Linked DNA regions of Homo sapiens. The protein of the gene in region 1 interacts with the protein of each later gene in a pairwise test. Each region holds a gene or a part of one and is shown in the gene's direction. Other genes may lie near its edges.

The links.
Region 2: the proteins of FAM117B (region 1) and PIAS4 interact in binary tests that used the Homo sapiens proteins (3 or more experiments, as listed by UniProt).
Region 3: the proteins of FAM117B (region 1) and GPC5 interact in binary tests that used the Homo sapiens proteins (3 or more experiments, as listed by UniProt).
Region 4: the proteins of FAM117B (region 1) and MAT2A interact in binary tests that used the Homo sapiens proteins (3 or more experiments, as listed by UniProt).

Annotation. Positions count from the first base shown.
Region 1 is NC_000002.12:202,637,022-202,645,675, forward strand, and holds part of FAM117B (protein FAM117B), read left to right. Parts: intron 1-8,654.
Region 2 is NC_000019.10:4,009,757-4,018,410, forward strand, and holds part of PIAS4 (E3 SUMO-protein ligase PIAS4), read left to right. Parts: intron 1-191; exon of another isoform or gene 192-658; coding exon of another isoform or gene 659-742; intron 743-3,166; coding exon 3,167-3,593; intron 3,594-8,654.
Region 3 is NC_000013.11:92,864,112-92,868,882, forward strand, and holds the end of GPC5 (glypican-5 precursor), read left to right. Parts: intron 1-2,170; coding exon 2,171-2,328; 3' UTR 2,329-3,126; downstream 3,127-4,771. UniProt on the Homo sapiens protein: Cell surface proteoglycan that bears heparan sulfate.
Region 4 is NC_000002.12:85,532,857-85,542,426, forward strand, and holds the start of MAT2A (S-adenosylmethionine synthase), read left to right. Parts: upstream 1-6,311; 5' UTR 6,312-6,431; coding exon 6,432-6,522; intron 6,523-8,226; coding exon 8,227-8,304; intron 8,305-8,398; coding exon 8,399-8,521; intron 8,522-8,776; coding exon 8,777-8,889; intron 8,890-8,972; coding exon 8,973-9,116; intron 9,117-9,298; coding exon 9,299-9,517; intron 9,518-9,570. UniProt on the Homo sapiens protein: Catalyzes the formation of S-adenosylmethionine from methionine and ATP. The reaction comprises two steps that are both catalyzed by the same enzyme: formation of S-adenosylmethionine (AdoMet) and triphosphate, and subsequent hydrolysis of the triphosphate.

The DNA of each region.
Region 1 (8,654 bases):
GAGTAGCTGGGATTACAGGCGACCGCCACCATGCCCGGCTAATTTTTGTATTTTTAGTAGAGACAGGGTTTCACCATGTTGGCCAGGCTGGTCTCGAACTCCTGACCTCAGGTGAAACGCCCGCCTTGGCTTCCCAGAATGCTGGGATTACAGGCATGCGCCACTGCGCCCGGCCCGAATAGTGTTTTCTAATTAGAACCAGAGCACTGTTTTATTTATGTATTTATTTTTATTTATATTTTTATTTATTTTTTGAGACGGAGTCTTGCTCAGCTGCCCAGGCTGGAGTGCAGTTATGTGATCTCGGCTCACTGCAACCATGGTCTCCTGGGTTCAAGCGATTCTCCTATCTCAGCCTCCCGAGTAGCTGGGATTACAGGCACCCGCCATCATGCCCGGCTAATTTTTGTATTTTAGTAGAGATGGGGTTTCACCATGTTTGCCAGGATGGTTTGGAACTCCTGACCTTATGTGATCTGCCCGCCTTGGCCTCCCAAAGTGCTAGGATTGCCCAGCCCAGAGCACTATTTTAAACCTTTTGAGAATGCAGAATGCTTTTCTAAAACTGTGATAAAAGTACTAGATTTCCCCTCCCTGCTTCATAACCTCTGTCACCTACTGAACTCTTACTATTTGGCAGGTGGTTTTTATGCAAAATCTCATTTAACCCTCACTATAGCTTTTAGAGAGGTTAAGTAACAAGTGGCAGAGTTGGTATTTATTTGAACTTTGGTCAGTTGTACTCCAAAGACCATGTCTTTATATTATATCAAGGAAGTGACATCATGATGTGTAAGATAGAATGTGGGAAATATATAGCACACCAAAATTACATGTACTTAGTTAGGTAACTTTTTTTTTTTTTTTTTTTTTAAGATGGAGTCTCACTCTGTCACCTAGGCTGGAGTGCAATGGGGCAATCTTGGCTCACTGCAACCTCTGCCTCCCGGGTTCAAGCGATGCTCCTGCCTCAGCCTCCCGAGTAGCTGGGATTACAGGCATGCGCTACCACGCCTGGCTAATTTTGTGTTTTTAGTAGATACAGGGTTTCTCCACATTCGTCAGGCTGGTCTCAAGCTCCCAACCTCAGGTGACCTGCCGACCTCGGCCTCCCCAAAGTGCTGGGATTACAGGCATGAGCTACCGCGCCCAGCCACTAGTTAAGTAACTCTTACAGATATGAACAAAACTGCTTCAGTCCTTCAGCCTTCTGGAGCCAGCATAGTGCATCAGGTGGAAGGGAAGGAGCTGGCTTATAAGTGGGCAGTAGAGGTGGCAGAAGGAGGCACAGCCTGTAGTCTGATAACAGAATCTGGCTCTCTTAACAACTGTTTGACACTCAGAGAAACACCCTGAGGAGAACTGGGTTGAATTAAGTATTGGCAAGGTGTGGAGGAAGGTACTCTTTTTCTCTGATCTCTAGGAGGGCTCTATTTCCTGGGATGTCAGGCTACTCCCATGTCCTCTCTTCATGGTTTTTGAACGCTCCCCTTCCCTAGATCATCCCGTAGAGTATTTGCTGTAAAATTATCCCCATTTGCTCCCCTATCAAAATAAATAAATAAATAAATAAATCCAGAAAAATAAAAACTCTTATTTCTCAAAGTGTAGTCTGTGGTTTATCTGTATCAGAATTAGGGTGTGTGGTATAATAAAAAATAATTTGGCCAGGCGCGGTGGCTCACAGGGGTAATCCCAGCACTTTGGGAGGCCGAGGCGGTGGATCACCTGAGGTCAGGTTTAATACCTGTGTTCCGCCAACTAGAAAAATAAAAACTCTTATTTTTCTAGTGCAGCACTTTCACTTGGGTGTGAGAAATATTGTCTGTTATTAAGTCATACTCTAGTTTGAATGTCTCATAGTTTCATTCCCAGGAATTGTTGTTTCACTCTAGTAAATATCCATGCAGAGTAGAACAAAGTGTTTTCAGATTTCAGGTGTTCATAACACACACAAAACTACGATGAAATCATTTGCTGTTTTTATCTGACTAAATCTGGAAGGAAAGTCTTTGTAAACGTCAGAGTCCCTTTTTCATTAAAGGGAGGCTACCACCAGTTTGCAGCTGTGATGAATGTAAAAATCCCTACCGTAAAGGGTAAGGGTCTACCCCATATAATTCTATAAACCTCATAGGACTCAAATTTCAGGGTCCATCTAGATCAGGCTGTTGACTTCTAGGTGTCTTATCAGATGAACTGGATGCTGTAACCTTTGTTAGGGATCCGGTATCTCAGAGTCCCTAAGTTGAAGGTATCAAGATCCCTATCCAGTTGCTTTATTCTTCTAGGGTTAGAGCTAATTGGCTGGTGTAGAACTTCCTACTCTTGACTACTATAAAGTAATCCAAGCACCCATCCCTGACAGATATTTTAAACTTCCCACCTTCAGTGACTGTCATCTCCATAGCAAAGCCGTTTGTCATTAGGAACTGAGGTATGTTTAGAAAAGGTACCTAGGCAACAGTGTTAACCAGAAAGTTTATTTTTGTGCCTTCTCTCCTTTTACCCAACTTCATTTTACTTATTAAAATGTCAAATAGATTACAAATGGAGAGATGGTATAACATCGAGGTGAGGAGGATATACTTTGGGTAGACAGTTTGAGTTTAATACCTGTGTTCTGCCAACTAGAAGCCATGTGATATGGAAAGTTATTTTTCTTATCTGTGAAATGGGTGGTGAAATCTACTTCATATGATAGTAGGGATTAAATAAGGGAAAACTGAAAAACAGCACAGTACCTCAGTATAAAAGTTAGCTGTTGTGTATCATATTAGTTTTGCTTCTAGTTTTAGTGTATTTAACATAAATTACCAGTGTAGGTTCAGTTTTCATGGTTGTATGAAGTTTCAAATTGGTGATAACATTGCCTGTGAACATCCAGAATGGTGTTTCTCAAAGTGTAGTCTGTGGTTCATCTGTATCAGAATTACTTAGGGTGTGTGGTATAATAAAAAAAATTTGGTCGGGCACGGTGGCTTATACCTGTAATCCCAGCATTTTGGGAGGCCAAGGTGGGTGGATGACCTGAGGTCAGGAGTTCGAGACCAGCCTGCCCAACATGGCGAAACCCTGTCTCTACTAAAAATACAAAAAATTAGACAGGTGTGGTGGCAGGCGCCTATAATCCCAGCTACCGGGGAGGCAGAGGCAGGAGAATCACTTGAACCCAGAAGGTGGAGGTTGCAGTGAGCCGAGATTGTGCCACTGCACTCCAGCCTGAGCAACAAGAGCAAAACTCCGTCACAACAACCACCACCACCACCACAAAATATATATATATATATATATATATATATATATATATATATATATATATGGCAAGTCGTGTTCTTGCTAGTTTCCCCCTTCCTTTGGATGTATTAAGTTGTGTATAAATTCGTTTGTTTATTGGAGTTGGGGAGTGCCAAGGGCAGCAAAAAGTGATAACTTCTTTGGACTAATAGGCAGAATCAAGAAGCAAGATAACCAGAACTTATATTTGTGTCATCTTTGATGTCTACTTTCTAGTACCTTATGAAATATGTCTCTAAGAATTTAGTGTTTCTCTAACATTTGGAGGATTGCTGCTAACATTACACATTCAAGGGAATTCTTTTTTTTTTTGGAGACTGGGTCTCTGTCACCCAGGCTGGAGTGTAGTGGCACGATCTCGGCTCACTGCAACCTCTGCCTCCGGGGTTCGGGTAATTCTCCCGCCTTAGCTTCCCGAGTAGCTGGGACTACAGGTACATGCCACTATGCCCAGCTAATTTTCTGTATTTTGGGTAGAGACTGGGTTTCACCATGTTGCCCAGGGTGCTCTCCAACTCCTGAGCTCAAGCTATCTGCCTGCCTCAGCCCCCCAAAGTGCTGGGATTAGAGGCACGAGTCACCCACACCCGGCTAAAGGGAATTCTTTTGGTTTGTGATGTCTATATTTTGCAATGAAGATGAGACAAAGTAGAAACTATTAGTTTTATGTCTTGGCTAGTAGAATTTACATTTAATTAAGTTAAATTCTGTAAGCTTTGATTGAACTACTCTGTGTTATTAACAGTGTAATACAAAGATGTAAAACACACAAGGAATTCCAGAGACTCACAAACTAGCCATGTAAGACAGATACATAAGCATATAATGTGATGAGTTTTCTGGCTTAGAGAGTGAATAATTCCACAGGGGATGGGTATAGAGGTTCCCTCAGAGGAGATGAATTTTGAATTGGATTACAAAGGGAAGAACAGAACTTTGCAGTTGGATCTTAGAGGTGTGAAAATAAGCCTATCATATTCAGTTCTTTGTGGCTTGAAATGTAGGGTAATAGGGTGTTGGGATGGGGAGAGCGGAAATAGTAGAGAAAGAAGGGAGAGACGTAAGTTTTCAGAATGACTTTGAATAGAATATATACATTAGAAAGTATTCCATGGTTAATAGTATGTACTCTGGAGCCAGACTGTCAGGGTTCAGACCCTGGAGTTGCCATTTACTTGCTAGCAGTTTAACTTTAGGCAAGTTCACTTTACTTGTAAAAAGGGGATACTAATGATACTTACCGTAGATAATTGTTTCAAGGAATAAAATCTTTGTAATCTGTGTGTGGGGTATAGGAATCTCAATATTAGATATTTTATTTTCTTTTTTTTTTTTTTTGAGATGGAGTTTCACTCTTGTTGCCCAGACTGGAGTGCAATGGCAGATCTTGGCTCATTGTAACCTCCGCCTCCTGGGTTCAAGCGATTCTCCTGCCTCAACCTCCTGAGTAGCTGGGATTACAGGCGCCTGCCACCACGCCCAGCTAACTTTTGTATTTTTAGTAGAGACAGGGTTTCACTATGTTGGCCAGGCTGGTCTCGAACTCCTGACCTCAGGCGGTCCATCCGCCTCGGCCTCCCAAAGTGCTGAGATTACAGGCATGAGCCACCGCGCCTGGCAGATATTTTCTTTTTTTTTTTTTTTATCGGAGTCTTACTCTGTCGCCCAGGCTGGAGTGCAGTGGTGTGATCTCGGCTTACTGCAACCTCCGCCTCCCAGGTTCAAGCCATTCTCCTGCCTCAGCCTCCTGAGTAGCTGGACTACAGCCGTGTGCCACCATGCCCGGCTGATTTTTGTACTTTTTTTTTTTTTTTTTAGTAGAGACGGGATTTCACCATATTGGACAGGCTGGTCCTGAACTCCTGACCTCGTGATCTGTCCGCCTCGGCCTCCCAAAGTGCTGGGATTGCAAGCGTGAGCCACCACGCCCAGCCAGATATTTTCACATCATTGTCTTCCTTCTCATCCAAGGCTTTAGGCACTCACAGTTATTATTACTAGTATTTATATTCTTAGAATAAATAGAATATATATATATATATATATAAAATGAGTAGAGTGTGACTTGAGATAGGAGAAACTCACAAAGGCATTGATCACCTGAATTTTGGGGGAATGGCAGTGGGAATGGCAAGAGTAAAAAAGATTGAAAAGACTGATTTGGCAAACTGTTGGATGTAGGGATTGAGAAACGGGGAGTTGAGGGTGATAGTTTGGATGGTGGTTCTAATTGATAACAGTGAGGAGAACAGATTTGGGAAAAGAAAATGAACTCAGTTGTGGATGTATTTGGTTTGTGCTCTCAGGAACTTCAGATAATTTTCTAGATTGTGGCAAATAACATTTTAAAACTCAGGGATACACTTTGAACTTGGGGGTAAAAATTAGGACTCATTTATTGCAGTTCAGTAAACATTCATTTAACATGTACATCATGCTAGGCATTTACATGTGGGCAACACTCGAAATGACTAATCACTAGGGTGGATAAAATGATAGGGAAAATGCTGAAGATAGAACTCTGGGAGGAAACAAGCATTTTTAAGGGTAGAAAGAAAAGCCAGTGAAGAAACCTGTGAAATGTGGTAGGAGGAGAAATGGTAGAATAGTGTTGAGAAAGCCGAAAAGAAAGATTGTATTTCAAGGAGAGATAGGAAAGATTTTCAAATGTCGTGAAGTAGGCTGAGCCTGGAGAATAGGCCTTTGAATCTGGCATGTAGATTAGTCAATGATCTGTGAGAGAAAGTAGTTTGAGAAGCATGTTGGGGGCACAAATCAAAGTGGAGGATGAGGAAGTAGAGGTAATGAGTATAAAGTACTTTAATGTGGACGGAAGGAAAGTGAAAAAACTGGGTGAAGGGTGTGCTTAAGCTTCAGTTATTTACAGGATGTGGAAAACTTCAGCTTGTTTATAGCTTTTAGGGAAAGGATTTATAGAATGAAAGATTGTAAATTCAAGAGAAGATGGTAAATGTAGATGGAGCAAGGTTATGGAAAATGCGAGAGGCATGGGATCCAGTACATGGTAGAGTCTGGAAATCTCAGAAACAAGGACATTTTTTTCTCTGAGGAGGGGAAGAGGTAAGGGCGTAGGTTAAGATGATAGGTAAATCAGCAGTAGAAGGGAAGGAAGTTGAGAAAGTAAGCTACTTCCTTTTCCAAACTACTTGAAGGCAAAAATAGCATGCTTGTCTTTATACTATATTTTTAAATTTAAATTTATTTTTTTAAACTACGTGTGCATAATTTAAAATGTCAAATAGCACTGAACTTATTATCAAATAAAATGTTCCCTTGTCACATCTTTCTCCACTCCCTCTTCCTGCCCCCTAGAAACAACCACTTTCAACTCTTAGAGGTTTCTTTGGCTGTTTACCTACACATTTCTTTTTCTTTCTTTCTTTTTTTTGAGACAGAGTCTCGCTCTGTCACCCAGGCTGGAGTGCAATGTCAGGATCTCAGCTCACTGCAACCTCTGCCTCTTGGGTTCAAGCAATTCTTATGCCTCAGCCTCCTGAGTAGCTGGGATTGTAGGTGTGTAGCACCATTCCCTGCTAATTTTTGTATTTTTAGTAGAGGCAGGGTTTCCCCGTGTTGGCCAGGCTGGTCTCGAACTCCTGGCCTCAAGTGATCCACCCGCCTTGGCCTCCCAAAATGCTGGAATTACAGGCGTGAGCCACCGTGCCTGGCCTACACATTTCTAAATAATATGCTATACTACTGCTTTAGGAGCTGTTTTTTTTTTGTTTTTTTTTTTTTTTTTTTTCAGTTTTATGTATTATGTAGTGACTTGCTACTGTGGAAAATGTACACTTAATTCTCTAATCACCATCCTACCGAATCCTTCCATTGTAGGTGTAGCATCTTTTGGTTAAATCAGTATTAATGTTATTATGACCATGTAAATATTGATTACAGTAGAGCCTTGTTGGATACTACAGTTATATTTTCTTTTTAAATAACTTTTTGTGGTCTTTGAGGTTAAAATTGTTTTTCATTTTGATTGCTTCGTTTTCTATGTACCTATCACAAATTTATCCCTAAGAAAGTTTTGATAATGGAAACTTCCTGTAAATAATTAAAAACATAGCAGAGAGTTACTTTTGTTTATTTTCCTTGGAGATATGTCTTTTGGAGTCCCTCATCCTCATATTCCAAATTAGCTCATTGATCTCTACATCTGTGGCACAGCTATTAGAACCGGGAACTTCCCTGGGAATTCTCTTCACTTCTCTCCTGTTTTGGATACTCTAATTTCTGGATGTTGTTTTGCTGGAGTGCATTTTCCAATAATTTTTTGAGAGAGGATACATGGGAGGTATATGTTATACCCAGACCTTGAATATCTTCAGTGATGTCTTTATACTTGCCGGTTTGACTGGGTATAGAATTAGAATTGTAGGTTGGAAATAATTTTTCCACTGGGTATTGAAAGCACTTCATCTTCTAGCTTTTGGAATTGCTGTTGAGAATTTGGATGCCATTCTGATTCTTAATCCTTTGTTGGTGATGGTGTCTGTCCTCTGTGGAAGGGTTACCACCATTCTGAAATGAGGATTGCCTTGTTGTGAGGTGTTTCATTGTTTGTTTTCTGTTCACTGTGCTGGTTACTCTGTGGGCTTTTTCAGTCTAGAGACTATTTCTGGGAATTTTTCTTTTATTATTTCTCCTTTCTGTTATCTTTGTTTTTTGTCTTTTTGGAAGCTGTGTTATCTAGTTGTGGTATATCTTGGAGCACATCTGTAATTTAACAATTTCTGTCTAGTTTCCGTATCTTTATCTGTTTGCATTTCTTTTTTATTATTTTTCAAAATTTCAAAATATATTTTCTTTTAAAAAATAGAGACTGAGTCTCGCTGTATTGCCCAGGCTGGTCTGGAACTCCTGGCCTTAAGTGATGCTTTTGCCTTGGCCTCCCAAAGTGCTGGGATTACTCACGCCTGGCCTGTTTCTTTTTTTTCTTTCTTTTTTTTTTTGTTTGTCTGTTTTTGAGACAGAGTCTCGCTGTCGCCCAGGCTGGAGTGCAGTGGCGAGATCTCGGCTCACTGCAGGCTCCGCCCCCCGGGGTTCACGCCATTCTCCTGCCTCAGCCTCCCGAGTAGCTGGGACTACAGGCGCCCGCCACCTCGCCCGGCTAATTTTTTGTATTTTTAGTAGAGACGGGGTTTCACTGTGTTAGCCAGGATGGTCTTGATCTCCTGACCTCGTGATCTGCCCGCCTCGGCCTCCCAAAGTGCTGGGATTACAGGCGTGAGTCACTGCGCCCGGCAGCCTGTTTTTATTTCTATCAGATTTATTTATTTGAGACGGAGTCTCGCTCTGTCGCCCAGGCTAGAGTGCAGTGGAGAGATCTCGGC
Region 2 (8,654 bases), on another chromosome or scaffold:
GGCTGCAGATTCTGTCTTTTGGGGTGCATCACAGACTGCTCGGAGGGGCGAATGTTGGGGGTTTGTTGGTGAACTTTGAAATCTGAGACTCTCAGCTTGAGGCCTGCAGGCGGGTTTGGGGCAGGGGTGTCTGTGAGCTCCCTGAAATAGTCCACAGCGTTTCGCACAGATCTCCGCTTTCCTGGAGAGAGGCGCCTTCCTGAGCTACCCCCGGTGCTCTGAGGGGCCTATGCTGGAGGAAAGGTTCAGCGCAGCTGCTGTGTCTCGGCTGATGTCTCCCCATGCGACTTCCAGGCAAGCCTGGAGTTGAAACTCTGGAAGCTGCCGGGGCCTGGCACTGTTTATAAACACAGCTCTGACGGCAAGCAGGTCAGCTTGAAGCCAGGGCAGGAAGTGATCTTGGGGCATTTGGGGCTTCTTCCTGAATGCTTGTCCCCCCCGCACTCCCTCCAGTGTCAAGGGCAGGCTCCTCCGAGGTGGCAGCTGCTGGGAAATCTGAGTCGTGAACATATGGCCACCTAAGGGGTGTGCTCCGGGAAGCGGGAGCTGCGGCTCCACTGTCCAGCCTGGGTGGGGCAGGGGCTCCCGGGGTGCGAGGATGTCAGCAGGTTCCCCAGCCCACCTGCCTTCGGCCAGTCTGCCAGTGTGAAGTGTCCACATGACATCGTCTCTCCCTGCTAAGGCTTTGGGCCACTTCCAGAAGAAACATCTTGTCTGCAAGCCTTTTTGTTTTCTGCACAAGGTAGGAAGTCAGGCCAAGGGAGATGAGGCATTTTTGTTTTCAAAGCATCCCTGACTCTCAGGCCCAGCAGACCATGCAGGTCCCCATAGCCAGTGTGCTGGTGAGTGAGGGTCCCCCGGGCAGCAGACGGGAACACCCTTGGGAGGCCAGAGGCCGAGGGGCCGATGCCAGTCCCACGCATGTACTAGGGAGGCTCTGGGCCAGCCTCTTCCCTCTGTGAGCCTCGGTTTCCTCACCTACACGATGGGTGTCCTCATTGTGAAATTAGCGACACAGGCCTTGCTGGTGCCTGGTAGGGAGCAAGACGCTGGCATCCCGATTCTTTACAGTCACGGGGCCCCGCAGCCCTGATATGGGAAGAGGCTTCTCCCGAGGCTCTTTGGGCAGGGCTGGGCCGCCTGCACGTGTGTCCCTGTCATTTTGAGCCTGGACAGCCTCTCCGTCTCCAACAGGACCCTGGCCCGATACAGCTGGAAGAAATCAGAGCTGACAGATGAGGACCCGACAGTGGGCCCCGGCTGCTGCAGCTTTGGTGCTGAAATGTGCGGCTAGGCTCCTGGTCTCACCCTGGGGCAGCCAGGAGCCGGAAACCTCAGCGCCTCCTGGCACGGAGGCTGCAGTTTACATACCCCACTGGGACTGCCTCTGGCTTCGACCCTCAGGGTCTTTCGAGTGGAGTTTGAATGGTTTATTGGTTTCTTCGGGTACCCGCCAGCTTTCCTTAACACCCTTGACGCTTGAGCTTTCTCCCCATTCCTCCTGGAAGCTACTGTTTCCCACCACATCTCATTCATCCCAGGCCAGCTTCAGGGCTAAGGGTGGGTGGCCCTGAAACCCTGCCAGCCCATCCCTCGAGGACACCTGGCTTCTGCAGCCTGTTGAGGAGCCTTCCTTCCCCTTCAGGGTCCTACCCCTCATGGAGGTCAGGCCACTGCCAGTCTACCCCACCTCAAACACCAGGGTCAGCTGGGCTCTGCTGTTTGGTTTTTATTTCGCTGGAGAGGCCCGGCCAGGCGATGAGGGCCAGGTCCTGCCAAGCCTCATTTGTCGCTTTGACCCAGGTCCTGCAACAGCCCCTGTGGCTGCTATCTTCCCCTTGGACCGGTCCCCCAGGGACTCAGGGCAACGTGTGGAGGTGTGTTTGGTGTGGAGGTGTGTTTGGTGTGGAGGTGTGGGGGGTGTGGAGGTGTGTGGGGTGTGGAGGTGTGTGGGGTGTGGAGGTGTGTGGGGTGTGGAGGTGTGTGGGGTGTGGAGGTGTGTGGGGTGTGGAGGTGTGTGGGGTGTGGAGGTGTGTGGGGTGTGGAGGTGTGTGGGGTGTGGAGGTGTGTGGGGTGTGGAGGTGTGTGGGGTGTGGAGGTGTGTTTGGTGTGGAGCTGTGGGGTGTGGAGGTGTGGGGGGTGTGGAGGTGTGTGGGGTGTGGAGGTGTGTGGGGTGTGGAGGTGTGTGGGGTGTGGAGGTGTGTGGGGTGTGGAGGTGTGTGGGGTGTGGAGGTGTGTGGGGTGTGGAGGTGTGTGGGGTGTGGAGGTGTGTGGGGTGTGGAGGTGTGTGGGGTGTGGAGGTGTGTGGGGTGTGGAGGTGTGTTTGGTTGTCGTGAGCTGTGGGTATTTAGCACCACACAGAGCCCAGGATGGCCCCAGTGTCCACAGGGCCAAGGAGGAGAAACCCTGCCTGGGATGATCAGCAGATGTTTCGGAGGCCCCCACAGGCCCAGCCCTGTGTTGACATCCAGAGGGTAGTGTGGCAGCAAGAACCGCCCCTGGCTTCAGAGCCAGGCCTGGGTTCGAATCTTGGCGCTGCCACCTCTGAGCCGACAGTTCCTCATTTGTGACAGAGCTCACACACCAGCCTAGCAGGGGTGTTTTAAGGATCAGAGTTAAATATATAATCACATGACCGGCTTGGTTCCCGGCAGGTGATTAGTACTAAGTAAACTGTGGCTACCGTTGGCGAGACCGAAGGGAAAACATATCTGTGGCTGACATGGGTTGAGCGCCCGCCCAGCCAGTGCTTTATGTCATTATCCTCCCGACGTAGAGACTGAGGGTCAGAGAGGCATTTGGTGTTTGCCGGTAAGGCACTGGCAGAGGCTGTTTACAAGTAAAGCACAATTGTCAGTTCCTGCCCTGGGGATGCTTTCAGGCTGAAGACAGGGAAAGAGAACCTAAAATAGAAGGGGGGGCCTAGTCAGAGGCGCTTTTGCTGCGTTGGCGATGCTGGGGAAAGTTTGATGAGGAGGAGGGAGGGGGCAGGGCTTTGCTGGGAGGGGGCACCGTAGGGGCAGGGCACTCCACCAGCCCCAGCCAAGGCTGGCGCTTCCTGGCGAGTGGGTGTCTTTCACGGCCCCCACATCGGGGCCTGGCCTCCATGGAGTCCCCTGCCTCGCAGCTGTGTCCTCTGAGTGTGTGTGTGCTTGCTCCTCCTCAGAACATGGTGATGAGTTTTCGAGTCTCCGACCTTCAGATGCTCCTGGGTTTCGTGGGCCGGAGTAAGAGTGGACTGAAGCACGAGCTCGTCACCAGGGCCCTCCAGCTGGTGCAGTTTGACTGTAGCCCTGAGCTGTTCAAGAAGATCAAGGAGCTGTACGAGACCCGCTACGCCAAGAAGAACTCGGAGCCTGCCCCACAGCCGCACCGGCCCCTGGACCCCCTGACCATGCACTCCACCTACGACCGGGCCGGCGCTGTGCCCAGGACTCCGCTGGCAGGCCCCAATATTGACTACCCCGTGCTCTACGGAAAGTACTTAAACGGACTGGGACGGTTGCCCGCCAAGACCCTCAAGCCAGAAGTCCGCCTGGTGAAGCTGCCGTTCTTTAATATGCTGGATGAGCTGCTGAAGCCCACCGAATTAGGTGAGTGGTCACCCTGGGGAGGCTGCGACTGGAGGCTTCACCTAGGCCCCGTCGCCCAGCCCAGCCCAGCCACACAGCCGACTTCGAGTGATGTTCTCTGTGGCGCAGCCAGGGCGGGGAGCCACAGTGGCCAGGGGTGTCCTTCCTCGGAAGCAAAGGGACCATCTTTGATATTGGTCACCCCTTGCTGTGTTACAAGTTACCCCGAAATGGAGCCACTGGAAGCAGGGGGCGTCTGTTAGCTCTCAGGAACCTGTGAGCTGTGTTGCGGGGCATTGGGGCTTGGGGGCTCTCATGAGGCTCAGTCAGGCTGGAGCCACCTCATCTGGAGGCTCGACCAGGGCTGGAGCAGGCACATCCTTGTGTGGTGGCTGGCAGGCCTCAGCTCCTCGCCAGCTCTTGGCCACAGTCCCCAGGTCCTCATGGTGCGGACTCCTGCACGGATTGCCTGGGCGTCCTCAGCCTGGTGGCTCCCTCACCCTAGGGTAGCGAGTGTGCACCTCCAAGCTGGGAGCTGGAGCCCTTTTTATAACCCAACCTCGGACACGCCTCGCCATCTCCCCCACAGAGTCCGTTGCTCACACAGACTCTGTGGCGCATGCAGGGACCACACCAGGCTGTGACTGCCAGGGCCAGGGGTGACCAGGGCCACCTGGGAGCCTGGTTTCCCTGCTTATTCCCCTTGGAAAGGGGGCTGGCCAGTGGCATCCTTCCCCCGGGCTCTGGTTCCTCGCTGGCAGCCTGCAGGAGTGTCCTTGGTCAGTGGGCTCAGGTCACTGCCAGGCTGTGTGCACCGGGCGTGCTGGGGGTTCAGGGCGATCCCAGGCGGAGGAGAGGTGCTGGGCTCCACGCTTCTCTCTCTCGTGTCTTTGTCTGCAAGCACTGACTGAGCAGGAACTGTGTGTCAGGACCTCATAGCCCACAGCAGTGTGGACAGGCCCCTGGTGCCTCCCCAGCAGCCGTGGCCATTCAGGCTGCAGGTGGGCATTGAGCCCAGTCTCTGCCTCAGCCATAGCCCTGAGCTCAGGGCCAGGGAGGCCTCCGCAGCCCCAGCCCCCAGGGCAGAGAGAGTGTGCAGCCTCTGGGACTCCCAGATAGGGAGCGGAACGTCCTGGGCCTTTGCGGACCTGTGCCTTGAGGCGCTCAGATTTCACCAAGTCCTCTGTGTGCCTGGAGGTCTCTCCGTCTCTTCTTCCTGCCTCCCCTCCCCTGCCCCCACTCTTTCCTTCGCACAGTAAACATCGGAGCGCCTGCTGGGTGGGTGCGTGATGGGCACCAGGCGTGGGCACGCAGCAGGGAACAGGACCAAGGCCACGAGGTTCAGAACCCTGTGCATGCCCCCTCCCACCCTGCTGACCCAGCAACCTGCCTGGCCCCTGCTGTGGCCTGAGGGCCCTTCTCTGGCACGCTTCAGTCCATTGGGTGCCAGCTGGCCCCCGCTCCCCTGCCCAGGGAGGCAGCGTTGATGGGGGTAGGGGGAAGGGGAACTGGCTGCTTTTCCCCTCCCATCTGCAGCCCTGGGACTTAGTGAGGTTAGGCTGGAGGGGCTGTGCTTCCAGGTGAGGATGGAGGAAGTGGAGGAGGGAGGAAGGTGCTGTCGGTGGTTCCTGCGGCAGCCGAGGCTCCTCCCTCCAGCCTGAGGCTCCGCCTTCCAAGTGAGGCTCCGCCTCCACCTTTTTTCTCTTGCAGGAGGTGTCTAGCAGCAGCCTCCTGGGGAGCAGGTTGGCCCAGTGGCACCTGTCCTGGGGGACTCAGGGTCTTGGCCTGAGTTCCATCGGACTGACTTTCCCAGCCTTTGCTCTCTCATGAGGGAAGCTGTTCCCCCTGCCAGGTTCTTGGGCAGAGCTGGCTGTCTCTGAAGGTTGGGCCTTGGGAAGGACCTGCATCACAGGGAGGCTGGGCTTTCCTGGGAGCGGCAGGGCAGGCTTGGTCCAGGGCGGGGGACGGGGCTGACCAGCTTCCTTCCTGCACGGGGACCAGTAGCTCCGTCCCACAATACATCGCTGTGCCCTGAGCCACCAGGGACCCCGGTCACCTGATCTCCGGGAGAGCCTGCTCCCCTGTCTACACCAGTGTGCCTGTGCTGGCGGCTCAGAACAAAGAGGCCATCCCCACCCTGCCTCTCTCTCCCACTGGCTCTCTCTCCATCTCAGGCCGCCAGGTGAACCTCCTTTCCTGGATTCCGTGCTCTTGGGGGACTCCCTGGGGGCCACCTCGGTCCTCAGAAGTTTCCTGGAGCATAGCCCCTGGCCCCGAAGCAGTGGTCCCCATGGTTTTAGGACCTGAGATGCCATCTGTCCGCCCTGACCCTGGGCTGTGTCCCTCCCCAGGGTGCACTCTGTGGTGCTGGCCTTGCCCGGGGGCCGCCTCCGGAGGACCCAGTTCCACCGGCTTCTCCCTCACTCCCTCCTCTGGCTGTGACCCACCGTCCAGCGTGAGGCCCACCGCTCTGGTCTGTTTCCCCGGAATAGCCGCCGGCCGGCTCCAGGATGGAGACCGCGCCAGGCGGACAGGAGCCATAAATCACGCGGTGCGGAATGCTGGGCTGGGGGAGGGGGTGACAGAGCCACAGAGCAGGCTGCAGGGGCCTCAGGCTGTAGGTGATCGGCTCCAGTGGGAGGTGCCGTGTGTGGGGACGGGGCTGGCACCCAGAACAGTGCGGAGAACGGCCCAAGGTCGCACAGCGGCCTGCCTTCCCTCCTCCCGAGCCGACTGGCTCCTGCTCCTGAGCAGAGGCTCTGGCCTGGACCTCTGCAGGCTGGGAACCCTGTCCTGCCTGTCGGCAAGGAAGCCGGCGCCACCCCTTTCCAGCCTGCGCCACCTGGGGAGTCCGGCTAGGGAGCCTGACCCTCCTGTCAGGGTACTTGGGAAGAGAGGCTGTCAGGAAATGTGGGGCAGAAGGAAGGATACATGCTGGCCGGGCACAGAGCTGCTCCTCCAGGGTCTTGGCCCGCAGCGGGCACCCCGAGGAATCTGCCTGCCCACCCGCCTGCTGTGCAGAGTGGAGCCCCTGTCACCACGACTCCAGATGCCCCCAGAGGCAGATAGCCCTGGTACCAGCCAAGAGCCGCCGGTCTGGCATGTGCTGTGCTGTGTGTAGGCACCTGTGCCCTTCAGCCTCTGAAGCCCTTGGGCCAGCATTGCCCAGGCCACAGCAAGGTAGCGTGGTCCCTGCTCAGGTGCAGCACAGAAGTGCCAGGTGATAAGTCTCATGGCACACGGAGGGCTTTCAGGGGCAGCTGTCAGTAGCAGGAGCCATTTACTCTACATTTGTGAGGAGGTAGCAGTCAGGAAGGCCTCCTGGAGGCAGCAGCGTTTCAGTCCAGACCCGAGGGTGACTCTCAAGAAGCCAGGCAGAGAGGAGGGGGCAGGGGAGCGTATTCCAGGCAGAGGGCAGTGAGGGCAGAGGCCGATGGCCAGAGAGGGCTCATTCATGGGGCTGAATGGAGTTCATTGTGGCCAGAACATGGTGCGCCCAGGAGGAGGGACGCAGTAGCCTGGGCGCGGGCGGCAGAGGCTGGAACCCGAGAATGGTGGGCCCGGGGAAGGCTGGGGGCTACCCTGCTTGCCCCGAGGGCTTCAGCGCCCCTGAGGTTCTGGTATGATTTTTGGGGTCAGTGAGGAAACTGAAGTGCAGGAGGCAAGTGGCCGTCTGCCTTCCACAGCCAGGCCTGCTGCCCGCCCAGGCCCACCATCTGTCCGTCTGCACACTGGGGGCCTGGATGGGCACGGAGCGTCCTGTGTCACTGTCCCACATGTGGGGTAGTCTGACCCACTCAGCCCGCTGGCACTTCCCATACCTGTGGTTGGGGAACAGGGGGACTCCGCCAGCTCTGCCCCAGGTCTTGGCCTTCAGGTTGAAGAGGAGGGATGGGCCCACTGCTACCAGATGGGGGGCTGCCAGCAGCCACCCCCATGTCCCGCTAGTCCTTCTCCCATCCCCTGTGGCCCCCTGCCCTGCCCAGCCCAGCTCCCCAACCTGCCCGCTGGCTGCAGCCTCCTGCTCTGCTTCCTGCCCACTGGTCCCCCTCCCATGGCAGCCTGTGAATGTTTTCACTGATGGGTAGAGTGGTCGGCATCACCCCTGTGCCTAGCCAGGGGCACCTGTTCCCCGCCCCTCCAGGACAGTGCCCCCTGTGTCCCTCATACCTGACTGTGCTGCCTCTACTCTTGATCTGGGGGACCTGGGTTGGGGAATCAGTGCTGGTAGCTCTTAGCTGGACAGGGTGGGTCCGGGAGTTAGAGAACTTGTATGTGCCGGGGAGGGGACAGCCTGGGGAGGGGGCCAGCACATGGGCCAGCTGGAGGGGGAATGGTCCCATCCGATCAGCTTTTTTTTTTTTTTTTTTTGAGATGGAGTCTGACTGTCGCCCGTGCTGGAGTGCAGTGGCGCGATCTTGGCTTACTACAGCCTCCTGGCTTCAAGCGATTCTCCTGCCTCAGCCTCCCAAGTAACTGAGATTACAGGCACGCACCACCACACCCAGCTAATTTTATGTACTTTTAGTAGAGACGAGGTTTCACCATCTTGACCAGGCTAGTCTTGAACTCCTGACTTCAGGTGATCCACCTACCTTGGCCTCCCAAAGTGCTGGGGTTACAGGCGTGAGCCACTGCGCCCAGTCTCATTTTTTGTATTTTTAATGGAGACGGGGTTTCGTCATGTTGACCAGGCTTGTCTTGAATTCCTAACCTCAAGTGATCCACCTGCCTCGGCCTCCCAAAGTGCTGGGATTATAGGCGTGAGCCACCAGGCCCGGCCCCAGTCAGCCTTTTAAAAACTCCCTGTGTTTCATTTCTATTTAAACTTGTACAATTATGCGCTTGTCCTAGAAAACTGGAGTCAACAGCAGAGCAGTCCGGCCGGCGCCCTGCTGCCCGAGTGGGCCGCCTCGGTACACCGGGCCGGTGCTTGCCGCCTTCTCCCTTTGCATGTGTGATTGTAGGAATGTGTGGCTGTGTCCTGGCTGCTATTTTATAACCACCCCCCATACTGTGAGCATCTGCTCACAGCGTTAAATATTCATCGTCAGCAGCATCTCGTGAGGCTCCCTGGCAGCC
Region 3 (4,771 bases), on another chromosome or scaffold:
GCTAGAATTTTTGGCATGCTAATGTCTTTTTACAGATGACAAGGTTGTGATTTGATCCATAACTACGGCCATGACTGCCAGGCTCTTGAAAAGATCTTGAATTCTTTTCACATACTTATTACTCAAAGGCCATATTCCTTAGAACTGTTACATTTATTTATTAGTAACACCTTAATGTAAGATGGTAAAATAGCATCTGATTGAAGGCAGAAAAGCTCTCCTGCCATTGTCTGGCTTGCAGGCATAAGATTTAACATCTTTCTACTTACATATTTTCACCCATGATGGCATCCACTAAACCTAAATCAGTGTCTGGCTCATGAATGAACAAAATATAAGCTCAGAATGGCATAAGAAAACCTTATTCATGGATCCCATCCAAACACAAATTCACAATGCTTAAAAATGAAAAGTAAATCCTGTAATGCTCAAATTTATGTAGTTATCTTAGAAAAAAAAAATATTTTTAATTGCCTGGAGTCCTCATAGCTTCTTGTTAAGCTTAACAAGAGGTATAAAGCCATGACTAAAATATTCACACTCCACTCTAGTCCCTATTTAAAAAAAATAAAAAAGGGAATCACTAGTTTATTCATCTTGCCTAATGACACAGAAGGGCAAAACAAGCACCCAAACAATGAATAATAATGTAAGAGCTCAGACTGTAAAATCAATATGTCAGATCAGCAGAGCTTTGCTTCGTTTTAGTGCTCTCATGTCTGAATGCAGCACAGCTTATCTTCTGAATTATATATATATATATTGGCCTAATTACATAAATATTGACTTTTCCTTATATGAAGTTTATTCTTTCAATCTCTCTGTAATTACCATGTCAATATTTGTGGCTGTAGTAACAATGAATTTAAATCTGTTAATTGTGACTGATAGTGGCATGCTATGAGATAATTCAGTCACTTAGTCTCAGAACACTGATGGCACTAGATAATAAGTGATGAATCAGTAATTCCCTAGGTATATCGTACTAAGGTAAACATCTTTAAAAAGCAATTCTTTCAACCCAGTTAATTAAGGGGATAGTTTTTTCCTCAACTTGTCAGGTTTCATAACGTACGGAAGTAATAACCAGAATGCGACTGGATCTTGGTGTATGACTTTGCCCGCTTTTTTTTAAATGAAACACTTTATCCCTAACTTCATTCTCCAGTCCACCCATTAACAACTTCTTTGATCTGTTGATAGATATCTACACCTCCATCCTCACAGCTGTATGTGTGTATGGAAGATATAATTTAACATTTGTTGCTATTATTCTTTGCTATTTGCTATTTCCATAAAGGTCCTAATTCCTGATCTCACTTACATGTGGAATCTAAAATAGCTGAAGTCATAAAAGGGGAAAGTAAAAGGGTGGCTGCCAGGGGATGGATGTGGGGAAGGGAGGGGAGATGGTGGTTGGAGGGTACAAAGTTTAGTTAGACAGGAGGAAGAAATGTTTTAGACCATTGCGCAGCATGGTAACTATCATTCATAATGTACTGTATATTTCCAAATTGCCAAGAAGGTACATTTCAAATGTTCCCTCCACAAGAAAAATGCTAAGGATGTGAGGTGATGGATATGCTAGCCAGCTTGACTTTATCATTCCTCCTGGTATACTTGTCAAAATATCACATTGTACCCCATCAATATCTATAAAATTTGTCAAGTAAAAATGAAAATAAATTTGAAAAAGATCTTAGGCCTACTTTATTCTAATGTAAAATATGATCTGTAGAAATTCTACTTTTAAAAAATATTTTATTCAATTATATCCCCTCAACTGGTTTTATTTTCATGGGAAAAGTTTTCAGTTACTGAAGGTGATAAATCTCTGAAACAAGAACTAATCCCATACCTAGGATATATTAATTAATTAAATGTCTTCACTTACTTACCAGTGGCAGAGAAATGTTCCAAAAATTTTAAAAAGCTAAAAATCTTTTCACTTTGCTCTTATAATATTTGAGAATTTTCACACAAGAGCTTGAACTCTCCAATCTAAGTAGGACAGAAATACCTGTGTCATATTAATTATGTTAGAGTTAGGTGAACATAGAGAATGGTCCCCAAAAACAATGCTGTCCACACTTTGAGTTTAAGAGTTGTTCTAGACGTATTATGGTGAAGTGGTCATGCATCACCTGTGCTTTCTTATTTGCCTCTACAGGGATGCCAGATGATATGAACTTCAGTGATGTAAAGCAAATCCATCAAACAGACACTGGCAGTACTTTAGACACAACAGGAGCAGGATGTGCAGTGGCGACTGAATCTATGACATTCACTCTGATAAGTGTGGTGATGTTACTTCCCGGGATTTGGTAACTGAACTCTTCTGTCCTGACATACCTTACTGAAGTCTCGATTTCTTCTCTCTCTGCATATGCCTGGAATAAGAGATCCTTTTTCAATGTAACAATTATATTTATGAAAAGATATGTTACACTAACTTCTCAGAAGCCAAGCTGAAATATTCATAAAGTCCCTAAAACTCAACGTTTAAATGACACACTTTAAAAATATGTCTTTTTTCAATCTAACTGAAAACCTTCTTAACTTCTAATATATTAAATCTGAAGATGTGAAGGGCACAGAAGTGACTTTGAATAAGAAGAATTTAGTGTATCTGTAATTTTATTATCAATTCCAAGCCCCTTCCTTTCTAAATTAAAAATGTTTTCATTTGAAAGTGTATTTGCCAGACAATGAAAACAGTATGCAGTATTTCTTAAAGTATTGAAATTAGAATATCATGAAATAAATCAAAACATACAATGGCAAGTAGTATGCATGCATATTCAAGAGACTCTTCCATTTTTGCAAGCTGTAGAAGGAAATGTCTGAATGTCTATAAGTTATGGGGTAGATTCTTGAGAAGCATTTCATATAATTTCACTGAAGAACCTTGATAATTTTGACCCACTGTAACTTAGCCACTGATGAACCTTAAAGCTGAGTATTTTATTAACACCTGATTTGTATTCCATTATATTCAAAATGCATCTTTGGTATTGTGCCTCTGCTCCCATCTCTCTCTTTGCCTCATAGATTTAGCTATGTTGGGAAGCACATGCTTGCTCTAGGAATATCTCCAATAAAGCTGTTAACTATTTGGTGGAAAAATTTGAAGAATATTTGTCATTTTCTTCTGGCAAAAATGCTATTTTCACCCATTTTCAAAATATTATGTACTACTTTTTAAAGCCTGATGTTGTACAATTGGCTACCTTTGCATTTCTAAGGTTCCTATGAATATCTGCAGACATGTACAGAAAAGATGATATGCAACACTTTAGCTCTTTCCTATTTGCTCATTAATGGAGCTGCAAACCAACAGTCCCTAATTTCTCAGTTGGGATAAGTTGCCTCAATAGACACTAATAGGATATGTATATGGCTATACTTGAGGAAAAGAGAAGTTAGTTTTTATTAATAAGTATCACATCCAGTCTACAGAGAGAAAATATAATTAATACAAAGTCACAGAATAGAAAAGGGAATTGCTGACCTCAAATAAAAAAAAACAAAAAAAAATTTGAAATGACTTCTGACAAAGACGTAAACAAGACACAGCCAAATGCAAACATTAATAAGGTAAAATCCGTTTCTGCTAGTCAGGAAACAATATATGATCAAACCTTGTTCTCGCTTAAGTTCTCAATTAACAAAATGATCTAAGGATGGTTAGTTTAAATCACAACATTTTTAAGCTGCCCAATCAGGTTTTACCCTCCATTCAAACATGCCTCAGAACCGTAAGTGTTATTCTACCCATCAGTTGTGGATGCCATTTTCCTAGGCTTCCATTCCACACCTAACATTCCCTGATCCATTCAGTTAATAACTCATTTGCACTCACCTTGACACACTCCACAAATTACAAACTTAACCCTATTTTGAAAATTTTTTACTTCAACCTCAGCTCTTCATTTAAATCAGTCTTGGAAAAAAGTGATACTAAGGCACTCATTTGCTGCCCTCCAGCCCAAGTCATGATTGGCTTGCTACGGCAAAATTTCAGACCCAACTTAAGAGGAATTTAATTCTAAAGACAAACAAACTGAAGAGCATGCTTTAGCAGTCTAAGATATATGGATAAAATTAATTGACAGAAGATAATTTCAGATATGGCAAGAAATGGACAAAAGCAGAGTGGTAAAGTCAATACAAGAAATGATTATTTTTTTTTAAACTAAGTTTTACATGCTCAGATGGGTGTTATCTGCAGGTGGGCACTTTGGGGACTATATAAGCAATAATGGTGTTACTAGAGCTTAAAACACTGGGGTTTTCAGAATTTCTTTAAAAGCCTAAGGCAAAATTGTTAATATTCTCAGTAAGGATATACTTATCCATTAACACTTCCCATTCTGTGACATTTCATATCTACATAGTTTCTTATGAATTGCAAAGCTCTTTCAAATGAGAGAGAGTATCTCATTTGGACTTTCTTCGCCCCCTCAAAGATAGGCTTGATTTTCAGTCAAATAAAAACAATAATGCTGATTTTTTATATGGCTCAGAATTTGCTTCTGGAGAGTTTTTCATTAATAAGGTCTAAGAAAGTTTTGAGCAATGATACAAGTGTTGGATATGTGTCTACTTTCCAAGATTATTTAATAGATTACATCAGACTGAATGTATGTATTTAAAAATATCACACACATAGTCACATTTTATGCTGGTGTAATTTTTAAAAGAGCCATATTCTTGAATCCCGGAGTTATTTTTATGAGTTTAAGTAATCATAAAACTTCGTCTGATATTT
Region 4 (9,570 bases), about 120 Mb from region 1:
CGCAGTGGCACGATCTCGGCTCACTGCAACCTTCACCTCCGGGTTTCAAGTGATTCTCCTGCCTCAGCCTCCCAAGTATCTGGGATTACAGGCACCACCACCACGCCCAGCTAATTCTTGTATTTTTAGTAGAGACGGGGTTTCACCATGTTGGTCCAGGCTGGTCCCGAGCTCCTGACCTCAAGTGATCCACCCACCTTGGCCACCCAAAGTGCTGGAATTACAGGCGTGAGCCACCGTGCCTGGACTAGAATAGCTTTCTAGAGGTGGGACTGCAGATACTAGGGAATGTGAATTTAAATTTATGAGAGATACCAAAGGATTTAAAAAAAAATTTTTTTTTGAGACGGAGTCTCACTCTGTCGTCCCGACAGACTGGAGTACAGTGGTGTGATCTCAGCTCCACTGCAACCTCCGCCTCCCAGGTTCAAGTGATTCTCCTGCCTCAGCCCCCTGAGTAGCTGGAATTATAGGCATGCACCACCATGCCCAGCTAATTTTTGTATTTTTAGTAGAGACGGGGTTTCACCATGTTGGTCAGGCTGGTGTCAAACTCCTGACCTCAGGTGATCCACCTTGGCCGCCCAAAGTGCTGGGATTACAGGCGTGAGCCACCGCACCGGCCCTAGCAAGGATTCTTAACTTGCAATATATGGTTAAGTTTCAGAAATTATACATAAAATGTTTGTCCATGTGTGTGTGTGATTTCTAGGGAGATCCATAGATTTTGTCAGATATTTAAAAAGTTTCAAGTCACTGGGGTACAGGGGGCCGGCACTTCACTACAGCAGTGGACCATGTGTAGTATATTTGCAGGTTTTGAGCAATTTTATCAACCAGGTACTTGTCCAGCAAGGGTCACTGTCTGTGCAGCTACCGGACCACCTGCAAGGAGAGCAGATGACAGCATTCCCACGTATCTCCTGCCCCTAGAGTAAAGGTGAAGATCCATACAGACCACAGTCATGGTACCACCTCCTCTTTAGGTCTGATTAATTTGCTAGAGTGTGCCGGGCACGGTGGCTCATACCTGTAATCCCAGCACTTTGGGAGGCGGAGGTGGGCAGATTACCTGAGGTCAGGAATTCAAGACCAGCCTGGCCAACATGGCAAAACCCGGTCTCTACTAAAAATACAAAAATTAGCAGGGCATGGTGGCAGGCGCCTATAATCCCAGCTACTCGTAGGCTGAGGCAGCAGAATCACTTGAACTCAGGGGTGGAGGCTGCAGTGAGCTGAGATCTCGCCACTTCACTCCAGCCTGGGTGGAAGAGCAAAACTCTGTCTCAAAAAAAAAAAATTTTTTTTTTCCGCTAGAGTGGCTCATAGAACTTAGGGAAGCACTTGCTCATTTTTACTGGTTATTTTAAAGGATACAAACAAACAGCCAGATGAAGAGATACATAGGGTGAGGTCTGGGAGGGTCCCAAGTGTAGGAGCTTCTGTTACCATGGAGTTGGGGTGTGCCACCCTCCTGGCACGTGGATGAGTTCTTATTCACTTTCCTGTCAGCCTCCACCTGTTCAGCTCTCCAGAAACTCTCTGAACCCAGTCCTCTCAGCATTCTTTGTCCCAGGGTATGGGGTAGGACCCTCTCTGGAATGAGGGTCTTATGACCCATGATCAGAAGGGCAGGGCAAGATTAGAGTCCTGCCTTGGGGCAGGTGAAAGAGAAGCAGGAAAAAGTCAGAGAGATTCTGTTTCCTGAGGCCTGCTCCTGAGTCCTAACACTCTCAACATTATAACGAAACACTGTATAACAAGGGCTATGGGAGTTATGAGCCAGGAACCATGGATAAAAACATATATAAATTCACACATATATTAACATCACATCTATCAACGAGGTTGAGCATTTTTTTCATATGTTTATTGCAATTTGCATTTTCTCCTTGGTGAGCTACCTATTTTATGTTGTATATATTTTCCCACAGTAAAAGAGAAGGAAATGATTTACAGCTCTACATAGTATCCTGGAGAGACAGTCATGAAAATTGTTAAGAAAAAAAAAATCCATGTTTCTCTGAATAGTAAGATGTGTGCGTGTGTGTGTTCACAGAAAAAGGAAAGGGAGGATATAAACCAAATTGTTAATATTAACGACCTCAGGGAGTATGCAGTATTTATTGTTTGGCTATAAGAAGGGGCATGAATTTAGAGGTCAGACCAGGCTCAAGGCCCTAGCTCCACTACTGATTTGATGTGTGACATGGACGAATAACATGCCAGTTTCTTCATCTGTAAAACAGGAAGAGAAATAGAGCTGTTGTGAGTAGTAGATATTACAACAGTGCCTGTCACAATAAAGTGTAGCTATTGTCATCATATTATTATCTCCTTCAGTGTCTTCTTCACTGTACCATATCTATTCTTCCATTCAGGACTTCTTTATTGGGACTGTAAAAAGATTTAAGTATCAAAAGAGAAAAACATAGAAATAAAAACAAAATACAAAAAGCCTAATAATGAGGGGGTTCACATAGTACTTGTTTCTGATCCCACTAGAACTAGCTTGCCTCTGAGGCCATCCGAGATATCTAAGCTTTGGCCCTAAAGAACTGCCACAAATTTGGAGACGTGGCCTACATTTCTTTCTTCTTGGTCTGTCTTCACATAGAAGGTGCTCTTAAGACACACAGCCTAGGAACCTCCTTCTCAACACCTCCACACCTTCACTTGCTCTTTGCTATCCCTACTGTCACCCTCCTCTTTTCTCCTGCCACATCAACAGCTTCTTGCACTGCAAATGTTTTCTGGAACTCTCCCCATGACTGACAGGCTAATAAGGAGTTATTTTATTTGCTGTTTGAGTCACAAATACCATTTTTATCCAATCCCAACTTTGCCTTTTTTGTAGGGTTACTGCTACATTAATGTTCTCTGGCTTGAGAAATCTGAAGCCTTTAGGCAGTGATTAGATTTTTCCTACGTGCTTTACAACACTTCACATTCAACAAATTCATTAACGATAAACAGGAAATAAACCAACAATTTCTCCTGGTTTAGTTCACCCTTAGGACACGCATCTATGAAATCAGAAATCTTATTCCTGTCAGAACAGGATGGCCATGTGCTTCCCTGTTAACAAAGAAGTCTTAATTTTATTAATTACAATGCTTACGACTAAAACAAAGCAGGACCTCTTTCCATTGATTTCACATGATCGCCAGAGTCTCTCATTTCTCTGCTTCCTTCTGCCATCTTTTTTTTTGAGACGGAGTCTTGCTCCGTCGCCCAGGCTGGAGTGCAGTAGTGCGGTCTCAGCTCACTGCAAGCTCCACCTCCCGGGTTCACATCATTCTCCTGCCTCAGCCTCCCAAGCAGCTGGGATTACAGGCGCCCGCCACCACGCCCAGCTAATTTTTTGTATTTTTAGTAGAGATGGGATTTCACCGTGTTAGCCAGGATGGTCTGGATCTCCTGACCTCGTGATCCACCCCGCCTCGGCCTCCCAAAGTGCTGGGATTACAGGCGTGAGCCACCGTGCCCCGCCCCCTTCTGCCATCTTTATATTCGTTCATTTTCCGTTTCCTTCCCTTCCTTTCTTGTCTCTCCCTCTTGAACATTTCTAAGCACCTTGTGTGTGCCAGGCATTCAGTAACAAAGCTTGAGCAAAACAGCCCACCTTCTCATTATCATGGAGCTTACAAGCCTAACTGGGAATTGGAGACATTCATCAAATAATCACCAAATCTATAATTTGAAACTGCACTTAGTGCCATGAAATAAAACACAGGCCCCTGTGACAAATCTGTGTAGATGAAGGCTTCATCCAGGAAGTGGTAGCTGAGCTGGAGTGAGAAGGATAAGGAGTTAGCCAGGCATCTCCCCACATTTAGAGCGCCGAGTGGGCAGAGACCAGGATTGTTATAGCATTTGCTCCTGGGTCTGACTCACAGATGTGCTCATAAATATTTGTGGAAGGGAGGAAGGGACAATACGAATAATATAAAATAAATGAAAATGTGTCCTCCTTTGTTTTGATACTATGAAATTAATAAAATTAACTGCTACTAACTAAAAAATCCAAGTAGAACACAGAAAGGAGAGTGTGGCACAAGGTAAGGTTGCAGAAGTAGCAGCCAAATCACACTGGGGCCTTGAGTATGTAGAGATTTTAGTCCGTATCCCGACAGCAATTGAAAGCCACTGAAAAGTAATTCACAGCAAATATAGTTAATTTTTTTACAGCTTACATTAAAACAAATTATGTACTAGATACTGTGCTAAAGACTCTACTTGCACTATTTGAATCCTTGAAACAATCCTATGATGTACTATTAATATTCCAATTTTACAGAACGAGGATACTGATGCATAGAGAGGTCGTGACTCCAAACCCCTACTCTTACTGTATTACACCTACACACTATTCACAAGTGAGAGAAGTAGGTAAGCAACTATGTACAGCTAAATCTCATCTCCTTGGCAGGCCTAGCCCCACTGTGGAGTTGGTAGCACAGGGGTATCAGGATTTAATGAGCCAATCATTGACTTTACGCTCCTTGTTCTGACTCCCTAATAAAATAACCTTCTAGTTATATTCTGGCTTCCCATATAGATTTTTCTGCTGGGAGATAATGCACTGACCAGCCTACACACGCATTTTGTTCCAGTTGACAATTTTATTACACATTGTAAGTTAATAAATTGGCATTCTCCTTTAAAAAATAACAAAAAAATTTAATAGTCTTATACAGTTACTTTCCCATGAAGGGTTAGCTTGAAAAGTAAAAAGCAACGAATAAAAATATCATCACCTATTGTCTCTTTTGTGGTCGAACCTTTTCTTGCTGCCTGCTTTGAGCGACCGTGGATGTGGTCACTGAGTCTGGGGAGGAGCCCTTTATCTTCTTTGTGGATGCCCCCAGCACAGCCCAAGTGCTTCCTTTGTTTCCCACTGAGCCTTTAGCAAATCCCACCTTTCCTCCTGCACCGACGGAGAGGATTGTTCTTGGGAATGCACCTTGTTCTACTGCCGCCAGCAGTAGGCAGCTGGAGACTGTTACTAGGGGTCTCCTTCACCTCCCCAGCGTAAAGTACATCCCATGCTAGGAGCAGGCCGTTCCCTGAGAACCTCATTAAACCCGGCGTTCTTGTCACGCGCTCCGCTCAGGGCCACCAGGCCACCAGCCCGACCAGACCTGCACCGAGGCCCAGCCCCAGAACAGGCTGCAGAGACCCCCGCCCCCAAGGCGGGCTCCCTCCAAACGGGACTCCATACTCCTTGCTGGCTCAAGTTTTGTTTCGCTCTTTTTCCCTGTAATTCCTTTATTGGGCAAAACTGGGACAAACGCAGGTGGACATTTTAAAGTGAAAGCTTCATGAAACAGCCCATTCCACGCCGTCAAGAGATCTGCTTAAGCACATTCAAGGGAACGAATAGCCCCCACCCACCAAAAAAGAAATGTTCGTTCCATATTCTCCTGAACAGAGGATTGAAACATCGATTCCCCCCCCCTTCAAAGGAACAGGAAGGCCACGGGGCAAGGACGGACTTGGGAGCGGCCTCCTTTCTCTCTGGAGGGAAAGGCTGGAGCGCTGCCTCCACTTTTAAGTCCACGAACCACGAAGGGTGAGGATCCCTCAGAAACTTTAGCGCAGGGGAGCGGGCAGGAGGGCGATTGTTTAAATCGATGGCAGCACCTTCATTAATCTGCTTTCCGGCCATCTTCAGCAGAGCCATTCACCAGGAAACGACTAGAAGGTGGGCCTGCGCCCCTCAGATATCCCGGGGCCGGCAACGAGCCGGGCAGGGACGCCGAAGGAAGGCCGTGAGGAGCCCTCGCTGGCCGGCCAAGATGGCCACCTTCACATGGCCGACCGCCACCGGCTCCCTGCCACCCGGCATCTAGAGGCGGGACGGCCAGAAAGACCCCAGCCGCAGCACAAAACCTCCGCGATTCCCGCCGCCTCCGCTGGGGGACGCGACCTCCGGGAAAGCTATCCCGGCCAACGGTCGGAAGGGAGGTGCCATGTCACCGCACAGGGGAGCGGGTCCAGCAAGCCCCAGTCGCTTTTTCTCCCACATCAAACAAGGAAGAGCAATCCCCCACGTCTCCTCGCGTCTGCATTTTTCTCCTAGCTCTAGCGGCTCAAGATAGCTGAACGGTCTCTGGAGGGCCGGATTGCCACGGCACCTCCCGCGGCCGCGCAGTGTGGTTCAGCCCGGACTCCGCGGGGCGAGCTGCCCTTCCTCCCCCGACCCCCGCGCAAGTGGTGCATTGGCGCGCGGCGCCGAGGGGCGGGGCCCGAGCCGGGCGCGCGCGGGCGCTGCTCTATAAATACCGGGCCGCACCGCCCGCTGCTTCGTTCGCTCCGCGCCGCCCGCCTGCTACGAGTAGAACGCTGTCCGCAGCTTGCGCATTTCGCAGCCGCTGCCGCCTCGCCGCTGCTCCTTCGTAAGGCCACTTCCGCACACCGACACCAACATGAACGGACAGCTCAACGGCTTCCACGAGGCGTTCATCGAGGAGGGCACATTCCTTTTCACCTCAGAGTCGGTCGGGGAAGGCCACCCAGGTGAGGGGACGGCCTGAAGCGAAGCGTGGGGCGGGGCAGAAGGCAGCGCCAAGGTCCGGCTGGCTGCGGCCGGCCGGTGGTGGGGCCCGCGCGGGTCGTCCTCGTCCGCCGGGTGATGGAAGAGCGGCGACCGCGCGCTTTCCTCGTGGCGCCGCCAGGGCCTGGCGCGTGGCCGCCGCTCCTCTTCCCCCTCCCCTCTCCACCCTTCCCTTCCCCCCTCCCTTTTCATTCGGTCGCGCGCCTAGGCATGCGGAAGGTTCCAGAAAACGTGAAGGGCGGGGGCTGTGGTCGCTAGTGAGTTCTGGCCGGGAAGGGAGGGCACTGTTAACCCCTCCCGGCCCTGCCGTCTGACAAACCTGGAGTGGGCGACCCGCCCCGCGTGCTCGCGTCCGGCCCTCGGGAGCGCGCGCCCCGCATTGCAGCGGCGACCACGTGTTTGCCGCATGTGGTATCTGGGCGAGGGGGAGCCGTGAGCCTCCCCGGCTGTCCTGGCCCTCAGTTTGAGGGGTGGGGGGCCTATGCCTTGGGACGTCGTCTGGCTCCACTGCCTCAGTGGTTAGGTCTTGACTACACACTGGAGAATACGCACATGCCCTTCGGCGGATATGGCCTTGCCTCCAAGGTGACGGCCTCTGACTAAATATAGCTCATGTCCAAGAAGGCAGTCCTTATTTGGACCCCTTGTGAAAAGGATGGGAAGCATGAATTAGGAGCTGCCATTGCTTTGGGTTCGCATTTAAAGTCTTCGGTGCAGGGTTTTACTTGAGGCTTTGTCCGCTCAACCGCCATTATGGGGATCAATTGGCACGTGAAGGAGGAGTAAAGCTATATTTCCAGGAACTGAAAATCTCAGCCTGAGCATATCGGCTAGTAAAGATGATTATTTGGCTCTTTTGGCTGTTTCTGCCCTTAGGATGACCGCAGTAGTTATCTATCTGGTGGCTTTAGGGTCTGGTCAGTTTACTGTGCCCATGATGAAATCCCACAAGTAACTTAGTGGTATGAGAGGACAAACCCAGGATCTTGATGAGTGCTGAAGGTTAGCTGTTACACCAGTTAGTAGTAGACCGAAGTTCAGAGCCTGCAGTCTGGCTTCCACATTATGTTTGGATTCTGTTTTAGGCGGTTATAGAAAATTCAGAAAAACGAACTTGAATTAGGGAGATATTTGTTCTCCCTCCTAACAATAGATGACAAAGCAGGGAGACATGGATTCGGAATACGTTTGAGCATCTTCTACACTGTTGAGCTTTTGTTTCCTGCGCAACTCCTAACAGCAAAATCAGATAATTGCCATTTTAGTCAGAAAATGCTTTTCATTTAATTGTTTAATCGAATTATCTTGTTGCTCATTATAATTGGTGTTCCTTAAGATTAGGGAAACTGGCCTACCTGTGGCCTCAGTTCTACCAGACTCCCAGGTGCAGAGGGGTTTGGTACAGTTGTGGAAGTGAATATGATATAGGGCAAATTCTGTTCTTTAAAGGATATAGGACTAACAGTTCACCTTTCTGGTGATTAGATTTATAATGCAAACTTTGAATTTTAGGAGGAAAGTGCAAACACAATGAATTAAGATGTATTAAGCATGTTTTTTAAAATCTCCAAAGATTTTACAGATAGTAACAGGGAGGGAGCTTGCATACATACATACATACTTTGTTTAAAGTTAAAGAAACTGAGCCAGGAATTTCTCTTTTCCAGATAAGATTTGTGACCAAATCAGTGATGCTGTCCTTGATGCCCACCTTCAGCAGGATCCTGATGCCAAAGTAGCTTGTGGTAGGTTCAGAATGTGCTTATCAACTGGTGGAAAGATAGCATAAAAATTATTTTTATAGAAGTGATGTTTGAGTTGAATGTCTCTTTTTATTAGAAACTGTTGCTAAAACTGGAATGATCCTTCTTGCTGGGGAAATTACATCCAGAGCTGCTGTTGACTACCAGAAAGTGGTTCGTGAAGCTGTTAAACACATTGGATATGATGATTCTTCCAAAGGTGTGTTTTAATGATTTTGCTCATTTTTTTCTAGGTAACAGCTGTGAGGTTTGAAGAAACTCCTAGAATGTTCCTGCTAATCCTAAACTCCAGTTGTATCTTACTATACACTAAGCCCTATTCTGTTCATTCTCTAAAAGGTCCGATGGTTTAGGTATATTTGATTTCTTCAGCAGTGTTTAGAATTCCAGATAATTGCTGTAAACAGCAGGTATTTCTAGGACGTAAACAAGATGTTGTGTTTTTTGCTTATAGGTTTTGACTACAAGACTTGTAACGTGCTGGTAGCCTTGGAGCAACAGTCACCAGATATTGCTCAAGGTGTTCATCTTGACAGAAATGAAGAAGACATTGGTGCTGGAGACCAGGTATCTTGGTGTAGAGGCTGTTTTAATCTCTTCTAACATTAAATTCTGGAGCTTGATCACATTGGTGACTTTTCTTTCTTTAGGGCTTAATGTTTGGCTATGCCACTGATGAAACTGAGGAGTGTATGCCTTTAACCATTGTCTTGGCACACAAGCTAAATGCCAAACTGGCAGAACTACGCCGTAATGGCACTTTGCCTTGGTTACGCCCTGATTCTAAAACTCAAGTAAGTGATGATCATAAAGCTTGGTTGTCTCATTTATTACATCAGCACAGAAGATCCATAATTTTGATAATAGCTAACTGGAAAAAATAGCATTTGTTTTCCTATATTGTAACTTCAGGTAGAGAAACAAATACAAAGTTATTGTTTGGTGTGATGTTCTGATGACCTGTGTTGCCTTCAAGGTTACTGTGCAGTATATGCAGGATCGAGGTGCTGTGCTTCCCATCAGAGTCCACACAATTGTTATATCTGTTCAGCATGATGAAGAGGTTTGTCTTGATGAAATGAGGGATGCCCTAAAGGAGAAAGTCATCAAAGCAGTTGTGCCTGCGAAATACCTTGATGAGGATACAATCTACCACCTACAGCCAAGTGGCAGATTTGTTATTGGTGGGCCTCAGGTAATGTCATTTTGTTGCATTTTTCTGGATTTTTGATGGTTACTTAAAATTTT